2 separate regions of the Homo sapiens genome follow, and region 1 is linked to region 2. The links come from fine-mapping of genetic effects on gene expression. A gene starts in region 2. The other region holds a variant in brackets. All regions are shown on one strand. Distances are between the middles of the regions. Region 1 holds the start of CMTM5 (CKLF like MARVEL transmembrane domain containing 5). Region 2 holds the start of BCL2L2 (BCL2 like 2).

Evidence for each region.
Region 1: its variant is fine-mapped to the expression of BCL2L2 in monocytes after interferon gamma (Fairfax 2014, PIP 0.95).

What each region holds. Positions count from the first base shown.
Region 1 is chr14:23,375,860-23,385,110 of GRCh38, forward strand. It overlaps IL25 (interleukin 25), which reads left to right. Exons shown (of 3, transcript NM_172314.2): 3 at 1-544. The coding sequence ends at 21. It overlaps CMTM5 (CKLF like MARVEL transmembrane domain containing 5), which reads left to right and starts at 1,187. Exons shown (of 6, transcript NM_001288746.2): 1 at 1,187-1,518; 2 at 2,490-2,642; 3 at 2,810-3,010; 4 at 3,172-3,264; 5 at 3,440-3,524; 6 at 3,615-3,913. The coding sequence starts at 1,393. The coding sequence ends at 3,628. It overlaps MYH6 (myosin heavy chain 6), which reads right to left. Exons shown (of 39, transcript NM_002471.4): 35 at 9,057-9,182; 36 at 8,583-8,858; 37 at 7,366-7,461; 38 at 6,569-6,703; 39 at 6,128-6,204. The coding sequence ends at 6,181. RefSeq lists an enhancer at 4,136-4,205. The variant C/G (reference allele first, on the strand shown) is at 3,641.
Region 2 is chr14:23,302,708-23,319,547 of GRCh38, forward strand. BCL2L2 (BCL2 like 2) reads left to right here and starts at 4,126. Exons shown (of 4, transcript NM_004050.5): 1 at 4,126-4,187; 2 at 4,485-4,572; 3 at 5,053-5,492; 4 at 6,109-9,044. The coding sequence starts at 5,061. The coding sequence ends at 6,258. It overlaps BCL2L2-PABPN1 (BCL2L2-PABPN1 readthrough), which reads left to right and starts at 4,126. Exons shown (of 8, transcript NM_001387346.1): 1 at 4,126-4,187; 2 at 4,485-4,572; 3 at 5,053-5,492. The coding sequence starts at 5,061. PPP1R3E (protein phosphatase 1 regulatory subunit 3E) reads right to left here and starts at 152. Exons shown (of 5, transcript NM_001276318.2): 1 at 1-152. RefSeq lists an enhancer at 4,985-5,818.

The DNA.
Region 1 (9,251 bases), 69 kb after region 2:
CGGCCCCGTGTGATGGGCTAGCCGGACCTGCTGGAGGCTGGTCCCTTTTTGGGAAACCTGGAGCCAGGTGTACAACCACTTGCCATGAAGGGCCAGGATGCCCAGATGCTTGGCCCCTGTGAAGTGCTGTCTGGAGCAGCAGGATCCCGGGACAGGATGGGGGGCTTTGGGGAAAGCCTGCACTTCTGCACATTTTGAAAAGAGCAGCTGCTGCTTAGGGCCGCCGGAAGCTGGTGTCCTGTCATTTTCTCTCAGGAAAGGTTTTCAAAGTTCTGCCCATTTCTGGAGGCCACCACTCCTGTCTCTTCCTCTTTTCCCATCCCCTGCTACCCTGGCCCAGCACAGGCACTTTCTAGATATTTCCCCCTTGCTGGAGAAGAAAGAGCCCCTGGTTTTATTTGTTTGTTTACTCATCACTCAGTGAGCATCTACTTTGGGTGCATTCTAGTGTAGTTACTAGTCTTTTGACATGGATGATTCTGAGGAGGAAGCTGTTATTGAATGTATAGAGATTTATCCAAATAAATATCTTTATTTAAAAATGGCCTAATCTGTATTTGGCATCCGTGGTGCCTGAACATCTCGCGGTCTCCCAGCCTGTCCCTTCTCCTTTCCACCATTGGCCCTCACCTCTGTCCACCCTGCCAGCTCTCTCCGCCCTCCAGAGTTTCCGCTGCACCCTCCCGTCCTCTCCCATCTCTGTCTCCCTGGCCCATCCCAAACACCAGGGTGGGGGCTAGGCCGCGCTCCCGGCATGCTGGAGAGACAGAGGCCCATTGAGGCATTGCAGCAGGCACAGAGCGCCCCCTTGTCCCCCAACAATCCGCCTTTGTCCTCCAGTCCTGGCTGCTGCAGCTTGGTCCTGGGGGTGCTGCCTGGGCTGGGCTCCAGCTCACACCCTCCCTAAAAGGAAATGGGAGAAAGGACCGGCCAAACAAGAGGGTTAAGGTTAGAGAAGGGGGACACAAATGTCTTCAGGCTTAGGTCCCTGGGGGCTCCCAGTCCTGCCCCTGTTCCTCTACTCACATCCCAGCTCCTCCCAGTTTCTTTTCGGACCTCCTCCTCTCCCCTTCCTTCTCTATTCCAGGCTGGGTTGGGCTCTAAGCAAGGGGAGGGATTAGAGCCTCCTTCCTCTCTGCCCCTCCCCATGGGTCTCTAGGGGGCTGGTGCAGGCAGCAGCAGAGGCACTCTGGGCAGCTGGGTGAGGGCCCATCTGGGCAAGGCCCCCAGCGCCTGCCTTCTCTCCCGGGGCCCTGTGGGCAAGCCTCCTGCTTCACTTTCAGGTTTCTCGAAGTGCCTTCTTGCTCCTGTCTGTTTCCCCATCCTGCCAGATTTCTGTTTCTCTTGCTGGGCTTTTGGCAGTAGGGGGCTGTGTTGGTGGGCCCTACGAAGATGCTCAGTGCTCGAGATCGCCGGGACCGGCACCCTGAGGAGGGGGTAGTTGCAGAGCTCCAGGGCTTCGCGGTGGACAAGGCCTTCCTCACCTCCCACAAGGGCATCCTGCTGGAAACCGAGCTGGTAACAGCTGCCTCCCAACCTGGTGCCTCCATCTCCCTGACCCCCGGCTCCTGGCCAGCCTTATGCCAGCCCCCAGCTCACCCTTCAGTAGCCTCCTTCCCCAAGCCCTCTGGACACCTCTCCTGCCCGCAGCTGCCCCTTCTTCGTCTCCTACTCTGCCTTCTTGCTGCCTCTCCACCCGGAGACATTTACAGCAGGTTTCAGTTGCAGCAGGAAGGACTGCAGTTAGACAGGGTGACTTTTTGGGACATTGAGGAAGCTTGAGACATAGGGATGGGACAGGGGCAATGACAGCCTCTAACATGGCCACTTCTCAGCACGTCCAAGAAGTCTAACTATCAAAAAGGGCAGACTTCCTGCAACTGCACTTTATCTGTGGTCTGCTGCCCAGAAACATCTCTTCTCAGGAAAGGATCTTCCCCTGGTTACTTAGCAAGACCACAGTGTAGAGTTAAGGCCTCTGCACGTATGCCACCCTAGGTCATCAGAGCTAAAGGGGCTCCCAGAAACCACTGGGCAGCATCTGCCTTCTCTCTTGGCATGGAATCAAAGGCTCTGGTCCTTGTCAGGGGGCTTTCAGGCATCTGGGGGTGGGGAAAGCATTATGAGGCAGGGGGCTCCTCTTGGTCCCTGTGGAGTCGGGTCTCTGTGGGCACAACTCCAGGGGCTGGCATTCACACTGTACCTATGAATTACTGTGGGATAGTGCTCCTGGGAGCCATATGGCTTGGCCAGACTGCTGGGGTTGCTGGGTGAGCAGAGTGGGAGGCCGGAGACTGCCCTTGACCGGCAAATGCCCTGCAACGGTGGCTCCTGACACCAGGGGATAGGGAGATGTGCCAGAGTCCTTCCTCCCCTCCAAGGACAGGTAGTAGGTGCCAGCCTAGGGGAGCTTCCAAGGAGGGGAAGGCAAAGCCCTGGCCCCTGCCTGTGTCCCCTTCTTGGCATGTTCCACATGCTCGGTCCTGCAGGCCCTGACCCTCATCATCTTCATCTGCTTCACGGCCTCCATCTCTGCCTACATGGCCGCGGCGCTACTGGAGTTCTTCATCACACTTGCCTTCCTCTTCCTCTATGCCACCCAGTACTACCAGCGCTTCGACCGAATTAACTGGCCCTGTCTGGTGAGGAACCCTGACCCCTAGCCCAGTTTGGGGCCCTTCCCTCTCCTCTAAATGATGCATTTTCCTTTCCTCCCCGAGCTTCTTTCCATTTCCACACCACAGCTGGGCTTTGTCCCATGCTATGCCCTGCACTCAAAGGTGTGCTTTGACTCACACTGATTTCACAGCTGCAGGGCCACGGGCAATCAGGAGGACCACATCCGCTAGATCTACTCTCCCACTCAGCAAAGGTCCAGCCCCAGCCCTGGCCTGGCTTGACCCCCCCGGGCTGGCATACTCCAGCCGCTGTCCCCTGGGTTCCAGCCCCAGCGCCTGGCTTCTGGTCCTGGTTGCTCTGGTTCATCTGCTTCCACTCCCTGGGTAGCAGTGTGAGCGCTCTGTCTCTTGAATGTGCTTCATATTGTGTGAGGGGTATCCTATGGAGGGGTTCAGAATCCCTCAGGGTCGGGCTGCTGGCTAGCCTGGAAAACTTCAGGGTAACGCCCCCTGCCTTCTGAGGTCCTGTTAACCCTGCACCCCTGGCCCCCAGGACTTCCTGCGCTGTGTCAGTGCCATCATCATCTTCCTGGTGGTCTCCTTTGCAGCTGTGACCTCCCGGGACGGAGCTGCCATTGCTGCTTTTGTGAGTTCAGCCCTGCAGGACTCCTTAGCCCCTCAAGAGCTCAGGCTGGTGCTTGCACACTTTCTGTATCAGAAGCCACAGCCAGGACTTGGGGTTCTGGCTTGCACCTCACCCTATACCTTAACCCAATGGCCCTATAGCCTCTGTTTTGCCATCCCCACTCCCACTCCCACAGGTTTTTGGCATCATCCTGGTTTCCATCTTTGCCTATGATGCCTTCAAGATCTACCGGACTGAGATGGCACCCGGGGCCAGCCAGGGTGAGTGCCTGTGCTCTGTGGAGAGGAGATGCCCTCCCCACCCTAGCTACCCATCCTGATGTGGGTCCCTACCTGGCTCTATCCTCACAGGGGACCAGCAGTGACTCTGGGGCTAC[C/G]TGGCTCCTAGGCCCAGCCAGCCAGAGAGGACAGTGGAGCCCAGACACGTCTCCTTGGGATTCACTAGCCCCCAGCCCGCCAAACCCCACCCCAGCCCTACACAGCAGTCTGGCCTGAGACGTCACTGGGGACTTATCTGTGGAGCCTGGTGCTCCAGGATGTGGCTTCTCATGAAGCTCTGGCCAGAGGAGGGGAACTTATTGGGGGAGGGGGGGTGGAGGGGAGGAATCTGGACCTCTAAGTCATTCCCAAATTAAAATATTCAAATTCTACTGGTGAGTCTCTTTCTTCCCCAGAAATTAGGCAGGTCAGGAATGTCAAGGAGTATTCATGGGAATGTTGCCAGAGCAGGTCGTGGTCTGTCTCTGGGACTGGGTCTGAGCAGTGAGGATGTGGGGGCTAGCCAGAAGAAGCTGAAGACATCCTCCAACACAAAACTTCTACGCTACACCTCTGTGTGCACGGCCACTTTGTGGTGTGCCTGGTGGCTGGGCATCTGGAGTTCTGTGTCTGAGAAGGCACAGCCTTCCTCATGGGAGCATGCATGCACCACCACACCTGTTCCCGCAGGTTAGTGGGCTGGAGGCCAGGCGCTCGCCTGGGGCGTGTGCAGAGCTCCCCCTTGTGGTGTGGGGAAGACTTGGCCCACAGGACGCAGGGAGAGGGCAGCCTGAGGTATCAGAGGAGGGAGAGATTTCCCAAAATGCGAATGCTGGGAGAGCCGTTGATTATCAGCTGGTCCAATGCCCTCATTTCACATAAGAGAAAACAGGCCCAGCCAGGGGAGGTGAACTCATTTGTGACAGAGCTAGGGCCAGAACGCAGCTCTTCTGACACCTAAGCGAGTGTTCTGGATACTGTACTGAGCCTCCTTGTAGCTCAGAAAAGAATGGCCAACTCTTCCCTCCACTGCGGGTCCACCCTCCCAGCTTGCCAGCTCCTCAGCACACATTTCCTGAGCATCTCCCATGCACACTGTGCTGGGTGCCAGGGCCTCAGAGGTGACGGGGGGCCTGCCCTTTAGCACTCACAGGCTGGGAAAGAGACAAGCTGGTCAAGAGCTCCCCACAGTGAATGCTATGGGAAGGCTCAGGGGAGTTTGGAGCAGACACTGCCACAGCCCGGGAGTCAGCCCTGCTGGGCCGAGACAGACAGATGTGCAGCCAGACGTTCCTGCCCAGCCCGAGGAGCCCAGCATGGCCTGGCTCAGCAGCTCCATCCCAGCTGACGTGCTATCTCCTGTCGCTGATGTGTGTGTGTTCCCGCCCTGAGATACAATCCTTCTTCTGGAGCGCTCCTTCCAGCTGCAGGCCCCAGCTCCCAAGTCCTGCCCGAACCCTGGATCTTGAACTCTGGTCAGAGCGCTCTGCTTCCTTGGTGGCAGCCACTCCTCTCTCTTGGTCTTTTTCCTGCCTCCTGCTTCCTGTTCTCCTATCCTTGTGTCCTGGCTCACCATCAGAACTGGCAGCCTCTCCTGGGCTAGAACCAACAGGATTTTGTGTTTCTCTGGTCACTGCTCACATTTCTCAGGGCTTTATGCACAGTCCATTCTCATGGTCTCAGAGGAGGGATAGAAGAGGCTCCACTTGGGGAGTCAGGGAGATGGGGTGCCAGGTGAACGGTTAAGGAGGCGGTCAGCAGAGCCTGGCTGCAAAGCCCAGTGGGGAGTGGGGATTTGCTTTGTGCAGAACGGGGTCAGGACCGGGCCTGTCCCACAAGCAGCTGTGTGATCCAGGCCAGACTGTCCCCAGTAGGAGCTTAGAGAGAGCAGAAATGTGACCACAGTGTTTCCCTGTACAGGCACCTGTGCCATCTGTGTCTGTGTGAGAACCAACATGAAATGAGCAATGCCCAGGCTTGGTCCTCATGGCATATTGGTTTGGGCTCAGTGTTGATTGGCCCCAGAGTCTCAAGATGCCCTCACGGTGAGGTGCTGAATCATAGGAGGCAGGGGGAGACCCCTGGGGAAGACAGGGAGGGGGCTCCCTGGGAGTTACTTCCTAGGGGCTGACTAGAATGGAATCTCTCCCATCTCCTTTCCCATACCTTAATTCTCAGCCAGCTCTGAGCCTTTTCTGGCATTGGTGGAAAATTCATTTCAGAAAGAATGGGTGTCCTAGGACACCTTTAATCATTGCAGCCTCAGGGGTGGGGTAGGTGGAGAGTGGCTTCAACTTCGGCACCAAAATTCTATCTCGTAGCATCTTGGACTGGCTCACCATTTTGATGCCATTGTTTTCTTCACTTTTGAAATTTCTCCCTCTCCACCCTTGTGTGGTTGACTGAGCAGAACTGGGACTCACAGCTGTCCACGTCAGGCAGAACACCTCACTCCTCTGCACCTCGGTCTCCTTCCTTGTGGATATGGGATGCCTTGGCTCTGGCAGCTCTGATACAGGGGCTGGGGGCCTCCCTCCTCTCAGGCCCCCTACTGCCCTGATCCAGGATGGACAGCTGGCAGGAAGGACAGATGGGCTCAGGCAGAGTTTGGCACTCATATTTATTACAGGTTGGCAAGAGTGAGGTTCCCGAGGCAGTGTCACTCCTCATCGTGCATTTTTTGCTGCAAAAAGAATAAGAGGTGTGAGGGGGCAGCTGGCAAGAGGGAGAAGTGTGTGGGGACAAATCCCTGGGGCTTTCAGAGGCCTAAGGGAGATGCCCTTGGAGGGAGAGGCAGGGCCCCAGGGATCCTGTGGTCCCACGTTAGAGGCACTTGTGGTTTAGGGGGATGGAACTGGGGATCTCTGCAGAAGTTCCAGTCAGTGGGGGGCTGTTTTGAGCAGGAGAGTGGATTCTCAGGTTATGTAAGCTATGGGACCCTCAGAACTGCCTACATATAGGGCAAGCAGTGCCCACTCTGAAGGGCACCCATATCAGGGGGCATGCTAATGTGGAAGTGACTAGTGAAGCCCAGGGGAGGGACCCACCTTGGCACCAATGTCACGGCTCTTGGCTCGAAGCTTGTTGACCTGGGACTCAGCGATGTCCGCCCGCTCCTCTGCCTCATCCAGCTCATGCTGCACCTTGCGGAACTTGGACAGGTTGGTGTTGGCTTGCTCCTCCTGTGGTGGGACAGTGGGGATGGGTGAATGAGCTGGAGATGGGCTATGGGATTCTCAGCCTCTCAACCTGAGGTTCCAGCTCCCTGTCCCTGAGGCACCCATACCTCATGCATATTCCTGCAACAGCCTTCCCAAGGGTATCCTGCAACTGCCTTGCACTCTTCTCAAACATGTCCAGCACTCAGAGTCCTTCACGGCCATCCACTGCCCCAGACAAATCCCATGCTGCCCGATCTGGGCCCCTTCAGAATCCTGTTTTGCTGCACCTGTCCCGGACCCCAGCTTCCTGTGCAGGCATGCTAATCAGCAACTCACATCCACCCAGATGTCTTCCCCACTGCCCTGTGGCTAGCTGGGTCCCCTTCTAGGCCCAATTCCACCGCCACCTTCCTGCCTTCAGCTTCGGCTGCCCCACGTCCTGCACTAGCATCTACACTGCCTTCTGTTGGGTTATGGTATCTGAATTGTAAGCAGCTTGTAGGTGGTGCCTTTGTTAATTCAGAACACCTGACAGCTCTGAGCATACCAGATGTGTCAAACAAATGTTTGAGAGTTAAAGTTTATAGCAAACTCTTTGTCCAGGCCCCTCTGTAGGAGATATTCATTGGTTCTCACAAATAGTAGGTGTGTTGATGAGAAAGGGAAGAAAGCTCTGAACTCACCGCCTCCTCGGCCTGGCGCTTGTAGGCCTTGACCTTCAGTTGCAGCTTGTCCACCAGGTCCTGTAGCCGCAGCAGGTTCTTTTTGTCTTCCTCTGTCTGGGGGTGGGAGGGTGGGAGAAGCTGGTTTGGAGGGGGAGCAAATGCAATCACCTTTCCCTCCTCCATCATTTTACTCTTCTCCCCTTGCCTTTGCTGCCCCTCCCTGCAATGATCCAGGTCAAAGAGGTGGTGGGGAAGATTCTCTGACTCTATCGTAGGTCAAAGGGGCAATGCAAGGTTGTCAGTCAGGGATCCACAGAGCAATGAAGGCTGAAGTCATAAAGCTAGAAGTAGGGGGAGGGGCTCAGAACCTAATGGAATTCCCTAATGTGGTAATATAAAAGCACCAGGTCTGTTCCAGCTCCAGTATGGTGGATAAAGCTCCAACCTGGACTTACATAGGTTCTCTTGGCCAGTAGTTCTTGACCAGAAAAAGAATGCAGAAAGAAGGGGGTATTATCATAATCCAGATTATTCTACATTCTAATATATTGTACTGGGCCAGAATTCAGGCATCGGGATCACTGGCTCCAACGTCACTCGATCATTCCTATCTCTTTATCATTGTATGTGCCAGGATGCCATTTCTACTTCTGTCCACAAATCACTCTGTGGTTCTGTATCTGTAACCTCTTTCTTGTGCCTCTGGTATCCATCTATCAAATGGACTGACACCCTCGTCTCCTTGGCCTTTTCTTCCCAGGTACACTGAAAATAACGGGCCAAGGGCACAGCTCTCAGCTATGCAAGTGGAGGTTTTAGAGCATTCTAGGGTCCTCTTTCTCTGTGGCCTTCTCTTTGTGTGCCAGAAGTTCTATGGAAGATTTCCGGGTCTTTTCCCCTCCCCTGACTCTTATCCCCACAGTCGAAGGTGGAAGGATTCTTTGAACTGTTCTGAAGTCTTCATGGTAGCACTTAGAGTTATTAAAAAAAAAAAAAAAGAAAGAAAGAAACCTGGGGAAAGACTAGTTAGAAGAGTTTTCAGGAAGTAGAAGTAGATTCTTCATTTGCTGGAAAAACTCATAGACTCAAGTCAAACTGACTGCAGAGCGTGAGAAGAACGTTAAATCTACCAACAGCATCTCAAGGAGGAGGTGAGAGGAGCCCTGTGAGGGCGGGGCAGTGGGGCCAGAGAAGAAACTTCCACATCTACTCCTGGTGTCTGGCGTCCGCCGCACCTGGTAGGTGAGCTCCTTGATGCGCCGCTCGCTCTTCCTCATGCCCTTCACCGACTCTGCGTTGCGCTTCTGCTCGGCCTCCAGCTCACCCTCCAGCTCCCGCACCCGCGCTTCCAGCTTCTGCAGCTGCTTCTTGCCTCCCTTGAGGGCGATCTGCTCGGCCTCGTCCAGCCGGTGCTGCAGGTCCTTAATGGTCTGCTCCATGTTCTTCTTCATGCGCTCCAGGTGGGCGCTGGTGTCCTGCTCCTTCTTCAGCTCCTCTGCCATCATGGCGGCCTGTGTGCAGGAGAGAGGTGGCAAGGAACATGGGCCAGGGGCCGGGGCCTTTTGCCCCCCAAGGATCTCCTTTCTCCCATCAGGCCCTCAAATCCACAGAACTGCAGAGTTGGCTTGGTGTTACAGCACAGTGGCCTGGCCTGGACCCAAGGCCTTGTTTCTGTCTTTAGGGGAGGCGGAAGGTGGGCGGTCACTTACATCCGTGATGGCCTTCTTGGCCTTCTCCTCGGCGTTTCTGCACTCCTGCACTGCCTCCTCCACTTCCGACTGGAGCTGGGTCAGATCCGACTCCATCTTCTTCTTCTGGTTGATGAGGCTGGTGTTCTAGACATGGAGAGAGAAAAATGATCAAATATATACTACACTTTGTTACCTGATTTCATACCCTTTCTC
Region 2 (16,840 bases):
CCTTGCAGACACCTCCAGGATCCTCCACCTCCCGTTGCTTTGCCTCTCCTCTGTGACCACCCTTCCCTCCCTCTGGCCGTCAGCTTCCAGGGTCTTAGACTATCACATCCTGCCTCCTGCTAGCGGTCTGCTCTGAGCGTGCGCTCAACTGCACTCACCCTCCGGTTCCAAGGCCCTCACGGCCCGGGCGCCCCCGCCCACAGCCCTCTGACAGGTGGCTCCGCTTGTCTTCGCTGCTGCACCAGGGGGCGGGGACTCCACCTTTGCGGTCCCGAGTGAAGCTACTCAACCTTTTAAAAAAAACATCCACGGACGGGACGCGATGGCTCACGCCTCAAATCCCAGCACTTTGGGAGGCCGAGGTGGGAGGATCGCTTGAAGCCTGGAGTTCAAGACCAGCCTGGGCGTCATAGTGAGACCCCTGATCTCTACAATAATAATAATAATAAAATGTAAAAAGTCCTCAACTTTTCCGGCACAGCACAGGAAAGGTTAACGCCGGGAAGAAAAAATAACCTTTCATTTTCTTGCAGGGGAAGGTTCAAAACGCCCAGCATGTGACTTTATCTTTGGGGTTCACTGTTTTCTTTTCTGAAACCTAGGCTCCTGGTTTGGGCAGGGGGTGGTGGTGCGTGCAAAGAAGGAAAGGTCATGAAAGCTAGGTAGAGTCTTTCAAATAGAAGGTGAGAATATGGCACCCGAACTGAGAACTGCAGGAAGACCTAGCTTCTAGTGACCTTGAGCAAGCAAGGCATAACTTCTCTGGAGTCAGTGTTCTCGTGTGTGTGTGTGTGTGTGTGTGTGTGTGAGTGTGAGATGGAGTCTCGCTCTGTCGCCCAGGCTGGAGTGCAGTGGCGTGATCTCGGCTCACTGCAACTTCTGCCTCCCCGGTTCAAGCGGTTTTCCTGCCTCAGCCTCCTGAGTAGCTGGGATTACAGGCGTCCACCACCACGCCCGGCTAATTTTTGTATTTTTAGTAGACACGGGGTTTCACCATCTTGGCCAGGCTGGTCTTGAACTCCTGATCTCAGGTGATCTGCCCGCCTCGGCCTCCCAAAGTGCTGGGATTACAGGTGTGAGCCACCCCTGAACTCAGAGCCATACTCTGAACTCAGTGTTCTTATCTGTAAAAAAGTGGTGGAGTTCTGATTTCTAATCCAAGTGTAAGCCCTTTGAGGGCAGGGGCTTTGTCTGATTCATGGTGAGTTTTAGTATATGGTAGGCACTCAAATTATTGAATGAACAAGCACCCAACAACTCTCTTGGAGTTGGGACTGTGGAATTATAGGTCCAGTGGGAGCTTCCAAGAAGGGCAGAGCTGGCTTTTTCCCCTTTCATTTTTTTTTTTTAACATTAGTGAAAAAAAAAAGTGAAGTTGTTTTTAGTTTTTTTCTAACTTTCCTACTGATCTAATATAGCACTTACAATGTGCTAGGTACTGTTGTAAGGGTTTTACAAATACTAACCCATGTAATACAACCATCAGAGGAATAGAGACTATTATGTCTAGTTTAAAGATGAGAGAATTGAGGGAGAGAGGGGAGAGGACTCTTACCCAGGGTCACATAGTTAATAATTGGGGAGGTGGGATTAGGACCTAAACAGTTTAGCTCTAGAGTCCACGCTCTTACCCGCTTGGTTATATAAGATTAAAACATTTAACAATAATAGTTAACATCCTCAGAGTGTTAAAAGAGGGAATATTAGAGTAGAAATGAAGTCTCTAAATTTAAAGCAGCAGGATAGTTTAACTGTAAAACCACAAGTGACTAAGTTGAAAATAAACCATGAGACACATGTTATCTTATTATTATACAATTCATTCCTGTTTACATGCATTCGCACTAGTATTGACTGTAGCAATACTAGTTAGCTAGGACTCATTTTTAAAGCAATATTGACTTTTTAAATTTTACACGTATATAGAATGCATGGATGTATTCTCTTCGTATCATTATATGTGATACAATATATACAATGTATATATTGTATATGCATATACAATATAATATATATAATGCATATAAATTAATGTCTAATAAATCATACATTAATTTATGTTACAATCAAGCTGGCCCAGGAGTTTGAGATCAGTCTGGGCAACATAATGAGATCCCTATCTCTATAAAAAATGAATTTAACCAAGCATGGTGCAGTACACCTCTAGTCCCAGCTACCAGGGAGGCTGAAGTGGGAAGATTGCTTGAGCCTAGACGGTGGAAGCTGAAGTGAACTGTGCTTGTACCACTGCACTCCAGTTTAGGCCATGGAGTGAGAACCTTGTATCACAAACAAACAAATAAACCAGGAGTGCAAATGAAGACTTGGACTAGGTTATTCTCTAAAGAAGAGGGCAACCTTGCTGGTGGCAGCCAGAATGATCAGGCTAAGAGCAAAAATGAAATGAGGATGGTTGAAAGGATACAGCCATAAAGGAGTGTAATAGGCTGTGTGTTTAGAATAGAGGAGAGAATTGAGTATGGACTTGTAAATGGTGTGGATTCAGACTATGAGAACCATATTGACTATGTGAAGGCAAGAGGTGATCTTGAAGCGATAGTGTCAAAGTTACAGCATGAGATGGCTGTGCTAGCTTCTTACATATCAGCCTATGGCTTTGGGAAAATCACTTAACCTCTCCAAACCTCAATTTCCTCATTCATAGAATGAGGATAAAACAGCATAAGGACTGGTGAGAGGAAAAAATACACATGTAAAAAAAGCACAGCATCTAATAACTCCTCAAAATATGTTAGTTTTTACCTTTTTTTTTTTTTGAGATAGAGTCTCGTTCTATCACCCAGTCTGGAGTGCAGTGGCATGATCTCAGCCTCCTGGGTTCAAGTGATTCTCATGCCTCAGCCTCCTGAGCAGCTGGGATTACAGGCTGGCTAATTTTTGTATTTTACGTCTGGCTAATTTTTGTATTTTTAGTAGAGATGGGGTTTTGCCATGTTGGTCAGGCTGGTCTCGAACTCCTGGCCTCAAGTGATCCACCCGCCTTGGCCTCCCAAAGTGTTGGGATTACAGGTATGAGCCACCGAACCCAGCTAGTTGTTACTGTTATTGCTGCAGAAAAGACCTTGCTTCTCCAGTGACCATAAGGGAAGATGGTAATACAGAGGCTTGGATTGGAGGTAGAAGCAAAGGGAGCTAGCAGAATAGGAGAATTAGGTTGCCTCTTTCTGGCCTTTGGTTGGGGCACTCTTTAAAAAAGTGCCAGATCCAAGAGCCCAGGGGGCTGGCTGTGAGTGCCCTCATGTGGATCAGCTATGGTCAGACTGCTTCACGCCTGTGACCTGCCCTGTATAAATATACTGCCATGTATAAATAATGGCCCCATATATATGTAATCTGGAAGGATAAACATCAAGCTTAACACTGGCAACCTGCAGGGAGGGAAGTGGAATTGGGTGTGTATGTGTGTGTGTGTTTGAGAACCTGTATTTTATTACTCCGCACGTCTTTATTGTTTGATTTTTTTCATAATGAGAATGAGTTTGTGTGTTGGGTAAAAAAAAGAAAAAGAAAAAAACCCCACTAAAATCAATCTAATTACAAAAGAAGATGAATTAAAGAAAAGTACCGAGAGAAACTGCTTGTGATCCAAGTCCTGGCTCCCTAATGCCTGGCTGAAGCCCAGCCCACAAAGAGAACACTGGGTTAAAGGTCCTGGAGAAAAGATGGGAAAGGTTTGGTGTCTATGTGGTGTCTGCTAGCCCCATAAGGGTAAGGCACCTGGTAGACGGTTCCCAGCTTAATGGGAACTGCTCCTGTTTTCCAGGCACACAGTTCAGGGCTGGAAAAGTTCAACAAGTGCATGGAACATCGGAAACCTCCTGAAAATGCTAAATTTGCCCCGAGATGTCCCGAAGTCCGGCATATTTCTCTGGGCAGCCTAGAGGCTCAGGAGCCCAGCCCAGCCCAGCCCACCGTGCCCTCTCAGCCAGCCCTTCTTTGCCTTCAGCAGCCCTCCCTCTTCCTGAGTAGTGGCCCTTTGCAGGCCTGCGTCCCAGCCCCGCCCCTCTCTCTGGACGCATCTCTGGGCCCCATCATCACCCGGCGCCGGGCCCTCCCTCTGCCCCCCCCTTTCTCCTCCCTCCTTCCTTCCCTCCCTTCCTCCCTCTCTCCCTCCCTCCCAGCTCCTGCACCAGGAAACGGCCCGGATCCCGGCAGCGGCCTGACCCGTGAGATCCCTAACCTGGCAGGCGGGCGGGGTTGGAGACTGGCTGAGGTGGGGGTAAGGGAGGAGCTGGGCCTTTGGGCTGCACTAGGGGGAACCGGGAATAGAGATGGTGTCGGCAGGAAGCCCTTGGCCTTGGGTTTCCCGGGAGGACAGTCATTAAACATGGATTCGGCCACACAGCTGGTAGAGCGTTGGGGGCAGGGGCCTAGGCCCAGAGCTGCAACCCTAGCCCTTCCCAGGCCAGAACCTGATCCCTGGCCTTCCCCTCCTGGTTCTGATCTCCCCCTCCCCTTTCCAGGGCTCCACGCTGGCCAGGAGGATGAAAGGCCCCAGCTGGGGGCTCCTTGCCACCAGTGCTGTGTCTTAAGAGCTGCCATCCCGGCTGGGTGAGTGTCTCCTTCCTTTCTCTGTCTGGAGTAACCCATTGCGTCTCCCACCTTTCTCTTCAGCCCATCTGCTCCCCCTCATCTTGTGTCTCTGCCAACATCTTTACATCTTGCATTTGGGGAGGTCCTAAGACCCTTCCTCTAGCCAAGAAGGTGTGGACTAAGGAGACCCGGGGGTGGGGGTGTTGTAGGGGTGTCATTGAGCTGACGTTGTCTTATTGTGAAAAGAATCTAAAGTATCCTAAACAGAAAATTTACTTGTTTTACATTTAATTTGGCATATTAGGAATGTAATGGCCAGCCACTCACAGCCTAGTCTCATATCATGACTTAATTCCCTTGTTCTTGCCTCTCCCTGTCCAGTGAGTCCTGAGCATTTCCTCTCTCCTCCTCATCTCACTGGGTTGGTCAAACCAGAAGTGCTCCTTCTGATTCTCTCTTCATATATTCATGCCAGTCTTTCATCCTTGCCTCTTATAGCCGCCCGGATGGCGACCCCAGCCTCGGCCCCAGACACACGGGCTCTGGTGGCAGACTTTGTAGGTTATAAGCTGAGGCAGAAGGGTTATGTCTGTGGAGCTGGCCCCGGGGAGGGCCCAGCAGCTGACCCGCTGCACCAAGCCATGCGGGCAGCTGGAGATGAGTTCGAGACCCGCTTCCGGCGCACCTTCTCTGATCTGGCGGCTCAGCTGCATGTGACCCCAGGCTCAGCCCAACAACGCTTCACCCAGGTCTCCGATGAACTTTTTCAAGGGGGCCCCAACTGGGGCCGCCTTGTAGCCTTCTTTGTCTTTGGGGCTGCACTGTGTGCTGAGAGTGTCAACAAGGAGATGGAACCACTGGTGGGACAAGTGCAGGAGTGGATGGTGGCCTACCTGGAGACGCAGCTGGCTGACTGGATCCACAGCAGTGGGGGCTGGGTAAGAAGCTTCTCAATTGCCGCTCTGCACATCCTTCTGCAAAGCTGGTCTCCAGGGGGAAGATGGGGGCTCTGATTGGAGGCTGAGGCAGCTATGTTGGGAATGAGGTACGGGGCTGAGTCTCCCCGTCTGGATGGAATTAGATTGAGAGATGCCTGGACTCTGCACTCCAGGGCTGCCATGCAGTCAACACTGGATGGGCTCATGGTCCCAAGCAGAGGACAGAATACACACCCAAGGAGTGCCTGCAGGGGAATGTTGTCAGGGACTTTTTACATCTGAGTCATGGCGTGGGAGGTGGGGAGGACCAGGGATGGGTGGTGGTCAGGCAAGCCTTGGCAAAGGATGCTAGTTCTGAGCAGAATTTTTCGCCAAGGAAAGGATGGAATTCACTGGAGGCAGAGTGGGCAGATGAACCAGTCTCTCAGGGTGGGGGTGCACCTGGGGGGATCAGAGGGGCTTGCAGGGAGAAGAGCTTTGGCCAGAGAGGAGCTGGGTATGGGGTAGTGCTCGCAGTGGATGGAACTGGAACTCTTCCTCTCCTCTTCTCTCCACTCTTTCCTCTCCTGATATCCCTTTCTCCTTCTTTCTCTCCTGCTTCCCTTCTCTCCCACAGGCGGAGTTCACAGCTCTATACGGGGACGGGGCCCTGGAGGAGGCGCGGCGTCTGCGGGAGGGGAACTGGGCATCAGTGAGGACAGTGCTGACGGGGGCCGTGGCACTGGGGGCCCTGGTAACTGTAGGGGCCTTTTTTGCTAGCAAGTGAAAGTCCAGGGCCAGGTGGGGCTAGGTGTGGCTGGGGGCCAGGAGAGCAGGAACAGAACAGAGAAATGCCCTTGGAAGAAGTGGAGTTGGTGGATGGGTGGGCATGGAACAGGATGGGCAGAGAAAGGGTAGTGTGTGAGGGAGCTGAGTAGGCCAGGTAGGCGATTGGAAGAGTGAGCAGGACACAGAGGGGAGGGGAATGTTTTGGCAAGTTTAGGGGCACAGGAGATGTAGTCGTTCCAGGGCTGGGGGAGGTGGGAGGGATCACGCCTATAGGTGTGGGCACATGAAACGACCTGGAACTTGCTTCACAGCCCTGAGGAAGGTGGACTTACATAAGCAGCTGTATTCCATTAGATGAGTGGGATTTAGGGAACGCAGAAGGCACATCCCTTTGGAATGGAAGCTTAGGGGTTCTCAGGTGATAGGGAGAGGTGGCTGTTAACAGTGGGCTGCTTGGACACGCGTGTGCATGTGCACGCATGCTGGTGTGCATGCTGGGCTGCCTGGCAAATCTGGTGGTGATGGGATTCCTCAAGGAGAAAACATTCCCTCTTGCAATGGCAAGAACTAGGGGCAGTTCTCTGTCCCTCCTCCCAACCCCTCCTTTCCCCTGCCCTTGTCCTGATGCCTCAAGGCTTAGAGAGAAACATTGTATCCAGACCGAGGGCTCTGCTGCTTCTTTCCAGAAAGTGATTGGCAAGGCTTTGGAGAGAAGAGCAGTTCTGCAGCTGGCCTTGTTCCTTCATCATCCCCCTTCCTTGTGCATTATGCACTTGCTGCTGCCTCCTGGGCTCTGATAGAAGGGCAGGGCTGTTGAGCCTGGATGGGTGGAGGCTTAGGTAGCCGGACCTGCCTGCCACCCTCCTCTCCCACTCAGGCACAATGGTGCCTAAAGTGTTTCCAATCTCTGGGACCTCTGTACCCAAACTGAAACTCTAAATTGGGGCCCTAACTAATTTTCCTTTTGAGGTTGTGGGCATAAGTGCTGATCTAGAATACAGTCTGGGTCCCACACTGTGTCTCAGTGAGACTGTTGATGCCTTGAGATGACCATTTCAGATCTGAATCCCATGGGTGTGAGGGTGATGGGTACTCCAGGACTGGCCTATGCTGTGTTGTGGGCTTTGGTTCGGCTTTATCAGGGGCCAGGCATATGGGTTCTAGAGTACCTACCATGACCTAGAAGCATTTATGATTTATTTGAAGCCACACTGTTTGCATGGGTGTTACTTGTCTGTACCTCAGAGTCTGAGGATGTTAACTTTGGAACTCGCAGTCCTCTAGAACAGCTTCAGATTATGGCTTTTTCTTTTGAGGAAGAAATTATTCACTCCAGATGCATGCCCTGAGCCAGACCTCACTGCTGCACTTTCCAAGGTGCTAAGATTGCTGCTCTCCAATGCTAACTTTCTGACACAGTGCTCTAGAACCCTGCCTGTGGTCCTGAGCACTGATCACCTTAGCTAGACCATGGTTGACTCTTCTTGGAGATTTTCACTTGGTCCTAGAATGTGGCAACGTAGTTGTGCTCGCCAGAACGTGGGACCAAATTGGCCTCAGGTGTTGAGTCCAGACTTCTGCTTTTGAGAGAGGGCTGCACTTTTTCATGGTATTTCTAGGGGAGGTGGTAGGCTGCATGTGCCACTTGGTCTTGTTGTGAGTATGCTGACACCAGAAACTCAGAGCCAGCTTGTGGCAAGCAGTTGGGGTGGGGGGTCTCTGACTTGCTCAGGACAAACTAGGCCAGTGGTTTTCAAACTGCTTGGCAGAGCCCTGAAGTTTCCTAGGGGTTGCCTCAGGAGTCCTTGGGGAGATGAAGGGGGTGGGGAGCTGAGCAGGCTGGGCAATTTGCCCTCAAACAGAACAGCTCCCCTTGTAGCTGTCTTACATATTGGGGTTCAGGGTAAGATTTTATTTGCATTAAGGGGTTTGCTGCTGAAAAAAAGTTGGAAAACCACTGACTAGACCATCGGCTCCAAATTGGAGTCTGTGCTTCCTTCCCCAGGTATGGAGCACACTCTTCACCCTACCCTCTACCACAGGACACATATCCCTGTTAGCATTCCCCGGGACCTTTAGCCAAGAGGAGCTGCAGGGACCATGGCCAGGTTACCAAAATGCCCTGCTCTGAAGCCTTGACACCTGGGTGGAAAGAGAGGCTGTTTTCTGAAAGGGTAAAGGGCTTGGTCTGGATTCCCAGAAGCATAGCTTAGATGGGACCACAGTGGGCAATTTTGACCTGTCCTGCCCTTCTTAGCTTGAAGGGAAACCCCAGAGACTCTTCTGTCAGGGAAAACTAGGGACTCTCTTCTAGAGCCATATAGTTCCTTGGGATTAGCTCTTGGCCAAGAAGGCTGAGTATGGTTCCCAATTTTTAAATCCATTTCATTTTTTAAAAAATAAGGGAAATAAATGTAATTGCCATTTTTCAAAGATTAAGTAGGAGGAGAGGGGTTTCTTGCTCTCCAGAGCCCAAAGGGACAAATAGGGACTTTGTTTAGGCCAAGGAAGGAGCGGAAGTAGGGCAACTCGGTCCTGCGATTATTAATCCCACTCCCCACTTATTCTAGGGCACACAAACACTATTTTACTTTTTTAAAATCATAAAACGGCAGAACAGATTTGGTTAGTTTAGAAGAAAAGAAAGCTCTATAAATATAAATCTATATTCCTGTATTTTTATTTAATAATTTATAAATACCAAGTTCATTTGACTTTTATTTTTGTGTAATATGTAATGATCGTATTAAAAACAATAAATAAAGCCCAGAAGTTTAATGAGAAGGACTGAACAGGGTTTGTGACTTCTACACTGTATAGCCTGGGGTCAGGACATTTCCTTGATCCAATCATCTCTTCATGACCTTGTTAAAGGCAAGAATTAGAATAACAGGGATTTGAGAAAGTGTTGGGATCATTAAGAAAAAAAGAGTCTTTCCCCCATCCTCACCCCACTCCTATACCAGCCAAATGGTCAAAGCCAAGAATTCCTTCTATTTCAACCTGAGCCTTGGGAGGGTGTGTGTATATGGTACTCTGGGACTGCCACTAACAATAACCAAATGAGAAACAAAGAAAACCTACCAAAAATCTTTGTGTGATAGTAATCAAGCCCCCAGTTGTGGTTCAGGCTCTAATCAGAAGTGTGTGATAATAATGAACATTTCTCCATGGTGCCTTCCTGCCTACCTCAGACTTAAAAATAGGTCTGGGCCAGGTGCGGTGGCTCACACCTCTAATCCCAGCACTTTGGGAGGCCGAGGCGGGCAGATCACTTGAGGTCAGGAGTTCGAGACCAGCCTGGCCAATATGGGGAAACCCTGTCTCTACTAAAAATACAAAAATTAGCCGGGCATGGTGGTGCGTGCCTGTAATCCCAGCTACTCAGGAGGCTGAGGCATGAGGATCACTTGAACCTAGAAGGTGGAGTTTGCAGTGAGCCAAGATCGAGCCACTGTACTCCAGCCTGGGTGACAGAGGGAGACTCTATCTCAAACAACAAACAAACAAAAAATAAGGCAAGGCGGAGTCTGGCAAAAATGGGAGTCCCTGCTTCCTTTGCTGGTCCTGTGAGACATTTGGTTTCAGCCATTTTAATGCAAATTGATAAACTGGATGGAATTTCTAAGAATATTCAGCTCATCCTTCTCTACCTCTAATCTTGGACCACATCAAAATCATGTTAACTGAAACAGTGATCCTAATTTTAAATTTCAGGTGGGAATTTCTAGCCTTTCTGTAATCCAGTGCAATAGACTGGTACTTGGGTTTATGTGTTAAATTGCAAGAAATATAATTGTTTAGAGGAATCCAGCATTCTCTTTCTATTCTTTATACAAAAGTCTACAGGGGAAACCATATTAAAATCAGAGAGTGGCTTAGTGAATATGGCACTATGGGAAAGGAAATTAGATGTTCTTAATAGTTAATATCATCAAGTATGATAGCTGGTGTATTTATCTCCACTGTTGTGTGATTGATTTAATGATTGATTTGCATTTGCCTAGTTCCAAAAAATATTTGCAATATCTTACTATAATACACAAAATAATAGGAAAACATAAATTTTTTAAGTTGGGTTGAATTTCAAGTCAAGGTTAAGTAAAAAAAATAAGTAGGGGTAAAGGGAAAATTGAAATAAGATGGCGGCAAAAGGAAAATTAATGCACAGAAAAACATTCTATAAGTAGCATTTCCAAATACTAAAGCTAGGCTGTGAATTCAGCTGTGAGCTTCTTGGTGGCTAAAGCAAATTAAAATACAGAATGAAATTCACATTCCTCTTAGGATTTATAAAAGCCTATCAGTTACTCAAGAGGGGCAAAAAAAATTTTGTGGCTTTTCTAAGAAGACAATGATATAGTGGACACCACCTTCTGTGACATCTAAAAGCAAATATGATGTTGAGTTTTGACCACTGTTTCTTCTAAAAACACCAAATGGAGATTCAGAAGGTCCTAAGCGAGAAATAACACTGGTGGAGAACTGTATGAAGGAAATATAATCCATCTATCGCTTTAGATAGCCCAAAATTTAATCCTGTATTAAACCAAATCATCATAGAGCAGCATATTTGGGCTAAATTGTGATGAACCTAGTAGAACACACTTAGGACCTTCTGAATCTATTAGAAGGTCCTAAGTGTGTTAGGACAAATGACACCTTCAATAAAGTTGGGCAACACTTAGTTACAATTATTAGTAAATGGATAGATTGTAGATATTCTGTGTTGTTACTTTTTTAAATTTTTATTTATTTATTTATTTTGAGATGGAATCTCGCTGTGTTGCCCAGGCTGGAGTGCAGTGGCGCGATCTCGGTTCACTGCAACCTCCACCTCCCGGGTTCACTCCATTCTCTTGCCTCAGCCTCCCGAGTAGCTGGGACTACAGGCGCCCGCCACCACGCCCGGCTAATTTTTTGTATTTTTAGTAGAGACGGGGTTTCACCGTGTTAGCCAGGATGGTTACCATCTCCTGACCTCGTGATCCGCCCGCCTCGGCCTCCCAATGTGCTGGGATTACAGGCGTAAGCCACCGCGCCCGGCCCTCTGTGTTGTAACTTAATAGCAAATCCTTTGAAGACTTTAAAAGCTGCTTTAAGGCTGGGCGCGGTGGCTCACGCCTGTAATCCCAGCACTTTGTGAGGCCGAGGCGGGCGGATCACGAGGTCAGGATCACAAGGTCAGGAGATCGTGACGGTCCTGGCTAACACAGTGAAACCCCGTCTCTACTAAAAATACAAAAATTAGTTGGGTGTGGTGGCGCAGTCCCTGTAGTCCCAGCTACTTGGGAGGCTGAGGCAGGAGAATCGATTGAACCCGGGAGACGGAGGTTGCAGGGAGCCGAGATGGCGCCACTGCACTCCAGACTGGCGACAGAGTGAGACTCCGTCTCAAAAAAAATAAAAATAAAAAATAAAATAAAATAAAATAAAATTTGCCTTAAATGTAGATACAGGAGAAATACAGAAATAAATCGACTATTTTGAAACTCAGCAGAAAATACACCATAATGAAATGCTGTGTAGTTTATTCAGTCAGTCATTTATGCAGCAAATATTCAAGCATCATCTGTGTGCTAAGCACAGTTACAGGCTCTGAGGTAGAGTGAACAGACAGATGCAAATCTCTGTTCTCATGTTGCTTATATTATAGTAAAAGAAACAGAAAACTTAACAATTATGTAATATGTGAGAAGGCGATGAATACCATAAAGAAAAATAATTCATTGAGGGGAATGTGTGTGTATATATACACACGTAAGAGTTCAATTTTAAATTGAGTGGTCAGAGAAGGCCTCATTTCTAGGGTGACTTTTGGGTAAAACTATGACAAACAAAATTGGAAAAATATATTTATTGACATGGGAAGATGTTTGTCTTTTTTTTTTAATTGGGTAAAAAAAGAAAATAGATTAGAAAATAATATATACAGTATGATCCCATTTTGCTAAAATATTTATATCTGTGTGCCTTGATATATATTTGCATATTGAAACTTTCAGGAAGTATATATGCCAAAATATCATTAGTGATTGTCTCTGGATAGTGGGCTTTATGAGTGCTTTTATTTTGTTCTTTTTGCTGTCAGTATTTTCTGATTCTTTGACAATGAACATATATTTCCAGATATTTCCAGTACAGTATATGAAAACAAGTTCTTTAGGTACAAAATTTTTAAAAAGTTAACGAAGCAGGATGGAAATTAAGCAGCCCAACAGAGGGTCCTTCACATTTAAATGGCTACCCCACTTCCATGCAAAGGCAAACTTAGGGAGCCAAGGTAAGCAGGACCAGACCACATTAGAAGATTATTGAGGTCTGCTCCAAGACAGAGGTCAGTAAAGGAGAAAGACTCCATGGTTCTACATCAGCACTGTCCAATAGAAATATAATGCAAGCCACATGTAGTTTTACATTTTCTAGTAACCTCATTTAAAATGCAAAAAGAAATTATTAAACCAATTTTAATATTTTATTTAGCCCAGTATATAAAAATATTATCATTTCAACATGGAATTAATATTAAACAGTTATTAATGAATTATGTCACATTCTGTTTTTCATACTAAGTCTTCAAAATTCAGTGTGTATTCAACACTTAGCACATCTCAAGTTGGACTACTCATGTTTCAAGTGGTCAGTAGCCATGTGTGACTAGTGGCTATCATATTAAAGTGTAGCTCTAGATCATAGGTCATTATTATAGTCTGTAAAAATTTCAAAGTAGTTCCAGATCATAGAGCATTATTGTAGTCTGTAAAAATTTCAAGAAAGGAGATAAAAATAGGGATGAAACTACCAAGACGTCAAATATTTATGTCGTTTGGGGAGAAAACTTTTCTGGGAAGAACTATGAATGCCCTCACCCATTTTTACTACTTAATTCTCCTTTTCTTAACTCCACTGAGCCATTCCCTTCTTCTTCTTCTTTTTTTTTTTTTTTTTTGAGATCGCCCAGGCTGGAGTGCAGTGGCGCGATCTCGGCTCACTGCAACCTCTGCATCCCGGGTTCAATTGATTCTCCTGCCTCAGCCTCCCGAGTAGCTGGGACTACAGGCGCAGGTCACCACGCCCAGCTAATTTTTGTATTTTTAGTTGAGACGGGGTTTCACCATGTTGGCCAGGATGGTCTTGATCTCCTGACCTCGTGATCCACCCACCTCGGTCTCCCAAAGTGCTGGAATTACAGGCGTGAGCCACTGCGCCCGGCCGATTCCCTTTTATTAATACATTTTCCCGTCTTCTGGGGCACAGTATCATTGGAGTTTCACTTTTTCCAAAACTCCATGGTCCTTTGTTTATAGGTTATTACTTAGAGAGAATTATAATGGGTGAATCTCACACCATTACATACCAAATTTCAAAAAATTCATTCTCAGAGGAAAACTTATCTCTTTGATATTCTCTATGCATCAACAACAGGCAGGATAATAAATACGAGTATTCATTCATTTATTTTTTTACTTTTTTAAAAAAATAAGATTATTCATTACTGAAGATGACTCATTCAGTTATCATTTACTGAGCACAGAGTGATAGGCAAAGGGAACACAAATATAAGATGGTTCCCTGTCTTTTACAGTTTATAGACTAATAGGGAAGGATCTTACAAGTCACCATTCAAAAAGCTTTTTTTTTTTTTTGAGACAGTCTCACTCTGCTGCCCAGACTGGAGTGCAGTGGCACGATCTCGGCTCACTGCAACCTCCGCCTCACGGGTTCAAGTCATTCTCGTGCCTCAGCCTGCTGAGTAGCTGGGATTACAGGCGCACGCCACCATGCCCAGCTAATTTTTGTATTTTTAGTAGAGACGGGGTTTCGCCATGTTGGCCAGGCTGGTCTCGAACTCCTGACCTCAGGTGATTTACCCTCCTCGGCCTCCCAAAGTGCTGGGATTACAGGCATGAGTCATCGCACCTGTCCCTCAAATAGCCTTTTAAATATGTTTGCTTTTTTCTTTTTTTGAGACAGGGTCCTACTCTGTTGCTGAGGCTGGAGTATTGTGGCATGATCATAGCTCACTGCAGCCTGGAACCCCTGGGTTCAAGTGATCCTTCTGTCTCAGCGTCTGGATTAGCTGGGACTATGCCACCACACTCAGCTAATGTGTTTGTTTCTTTCATAAGGTAATTATGCCTAGTAGAAGAAGTTTGAAAGTTGGAGTGATTTTTTAAAAATAAATATGTAATGGGCTGGACATGGTGTCTCATGCCTGTAATCCCAACACTTTGGGAGGCTGAGTTGGGCAGATGGCTTGAGCCCCAGGAGTTTGAGACAAGCCTAAGCAACATAGTGAGACCTTGTCTCCACAAAAATAGAAAAAATTAGCTGGGCATAGTGGTGCACACCTGTAGTCCCAGCCACTTCGGAAGCTGAGGAGGGAGGATTGCTTGAGCCAGGAGTTTGAGGGTGTGGTCGGCTGTGATCATGCCACTGTATTCCAGCCTGGGCGACAACGACCCTGTCTCAAACAACAAAGGCAGCAAAATAAACAAGTAAATAAATAAATAATGATTGTGGAAAATTTGTAGAACATAGAAAATTATAAAGAAAATGAATCATAATGCTGTCACCCAGAGACAATTACTATTTTGGTATACTTCTTTCTAGTATTTGTTTGTCTGCTTTTATGATCATGCAATTTTGTATACGCAATTCTGCTTACCATTATATTGCAAGCATTTTTTCTTGATGTTAAAATGTTTCAAAGTCATAATGACTATATACAATTACTTCTACTTGTGTACAGTAATTTTAATGCCCACTTGGTCCTTTATCTGTATTTTTTCACTTTGATAAAAATACTTATTCTGGCTGGGCATTGTGGCTCACGCCTGTAATTCCAGCACTTTGGGAGGCTGAGGCGGGCTGATCACCTGAGTTCAGGAGTTCGAGACCACCGTGGGCAATATGGTAAAACCCCATCTCTACTAAAATACAAAAAATTAGCTGGGCTTGGTGGTGGTGCGCCTGTAGTACCAGATACTTAGGAGGCTGAGGCACAAGAATCGCTTGAGCCCTGGAGGTGGAGGTTGCAGTGAGCTGAGATTACGCCACTGCACTCCAGCTTGGTTGGGCTATGGAGTGAGACTCTGTCTCAAAAAAAACAAAACAAAAACAAACAAACAAAAAATATTTATTCACAAATTGGATTACATTTTTAGAAGAGATAAGAAATAGGATTACTGGGTTAAGAATCTCAACTTTTTTTTTTTTTTTTTGGAGAGAGTCTCCCTCTGTCACCCAGGCTGGAATATAGTGTCGCGATCTTGGCTCACTGCAACCTCCACCTCCCAGGTTCAAGCCTTTCTCCTGCCTCAGCCTCCTGACTAGCTGGGATTACAGGCGCCCACCACCACACCCAGTTAATTTTTGTACTTTTAGTAGAGACAGGGTTTCACCATTTTGGCCAGGCTGGTCTCGAACTCCTGACCTTAGGTGATCCACCTGCCTTGGCCTCCCAAAGTGCTGGGATTACAGGCCGTGAGCCACCTCACCTGGCTCTTTTTTTTTTTTTTTTTTTGAGACAGGGTCTCACTCTGTTGCCAGTCTGAAGTGCACGTAGCACCAATTATGGTTCACTGTAGCCTCAGCCTCCCAAGTAGCTGGGCAGGGACTACAGGCACACGCCACTTTGCCCAGCTAATTTTTGTATTTTTAGTGGAGAATGGGTTTTGCCATATTGCCCAGGCTGGTTTTGAACTCCTGGACTCAAGCAATCTGGCTCCCAAAGTGTTGTGAGCCACTCCGCCTGGCCTTAAGAATCTCACCATTTTAAAAGCTTTTGATATATACTGCCAAAGAATAGAAAGATTGTACTGGTTCTTGCTCCTTTTTTCCTCCCATGCCTAAGTTTTTAAAAAAAATCAGATATAGTTGTAATTATATATTATGTACAATTTTACATTCTTCTTTGGCTTAACAAAATTATTTTCGCATGTTTGTCATACTATGTAACCCTTTTAAGAGATGCATAATAATTTTTTTTGGATATAATTATAGTTTGCTTAAACTTTTGTTTATTGTTGGAATTTAGTCTTGCCATTTTTCACACATAATTTTTATGTATTAAAGCAGGCCTTATAGTAGTAGTGATCTGAGCTTTGAAAGCTGGCTTTGAATTCCCTGCACATTATTATATATATTACATAATATATATTATGTATAATATATATATAATTTTTATTTTTTCCTTTGAGACAGAGTCTTGCTGTTGCCCAGGCGATTCTCCTGCCTCAGCCTCCCGAGCAGCTGGGTTTACAGGCATGTACCACCATGCCCAGCTAATTTTTGTATTTTTAGTAGAGATGGGGTTTCGCCATGTTGGCCAGGCTGGTCTGAAACTCCTGGGCTCAGGTGATCCTCCCGCCACAGCCTCCCAAAGAGCTGGGATAACAGGTGTGAGCCACCACGCCCAGCCAGCCCTGCACACTTCTAATTAGTCCAATGACTTAGGCAAGTTTCTTCATTTCATTAAGCCTTTTTCTTTTTCCCTAAAAAAGGTTATGGTTTTGGAAATACTTTCCCCGTGGGGTTGTTGTGAGAGTCCAGTGAAATAATAAGGAGTGGTGCTTATT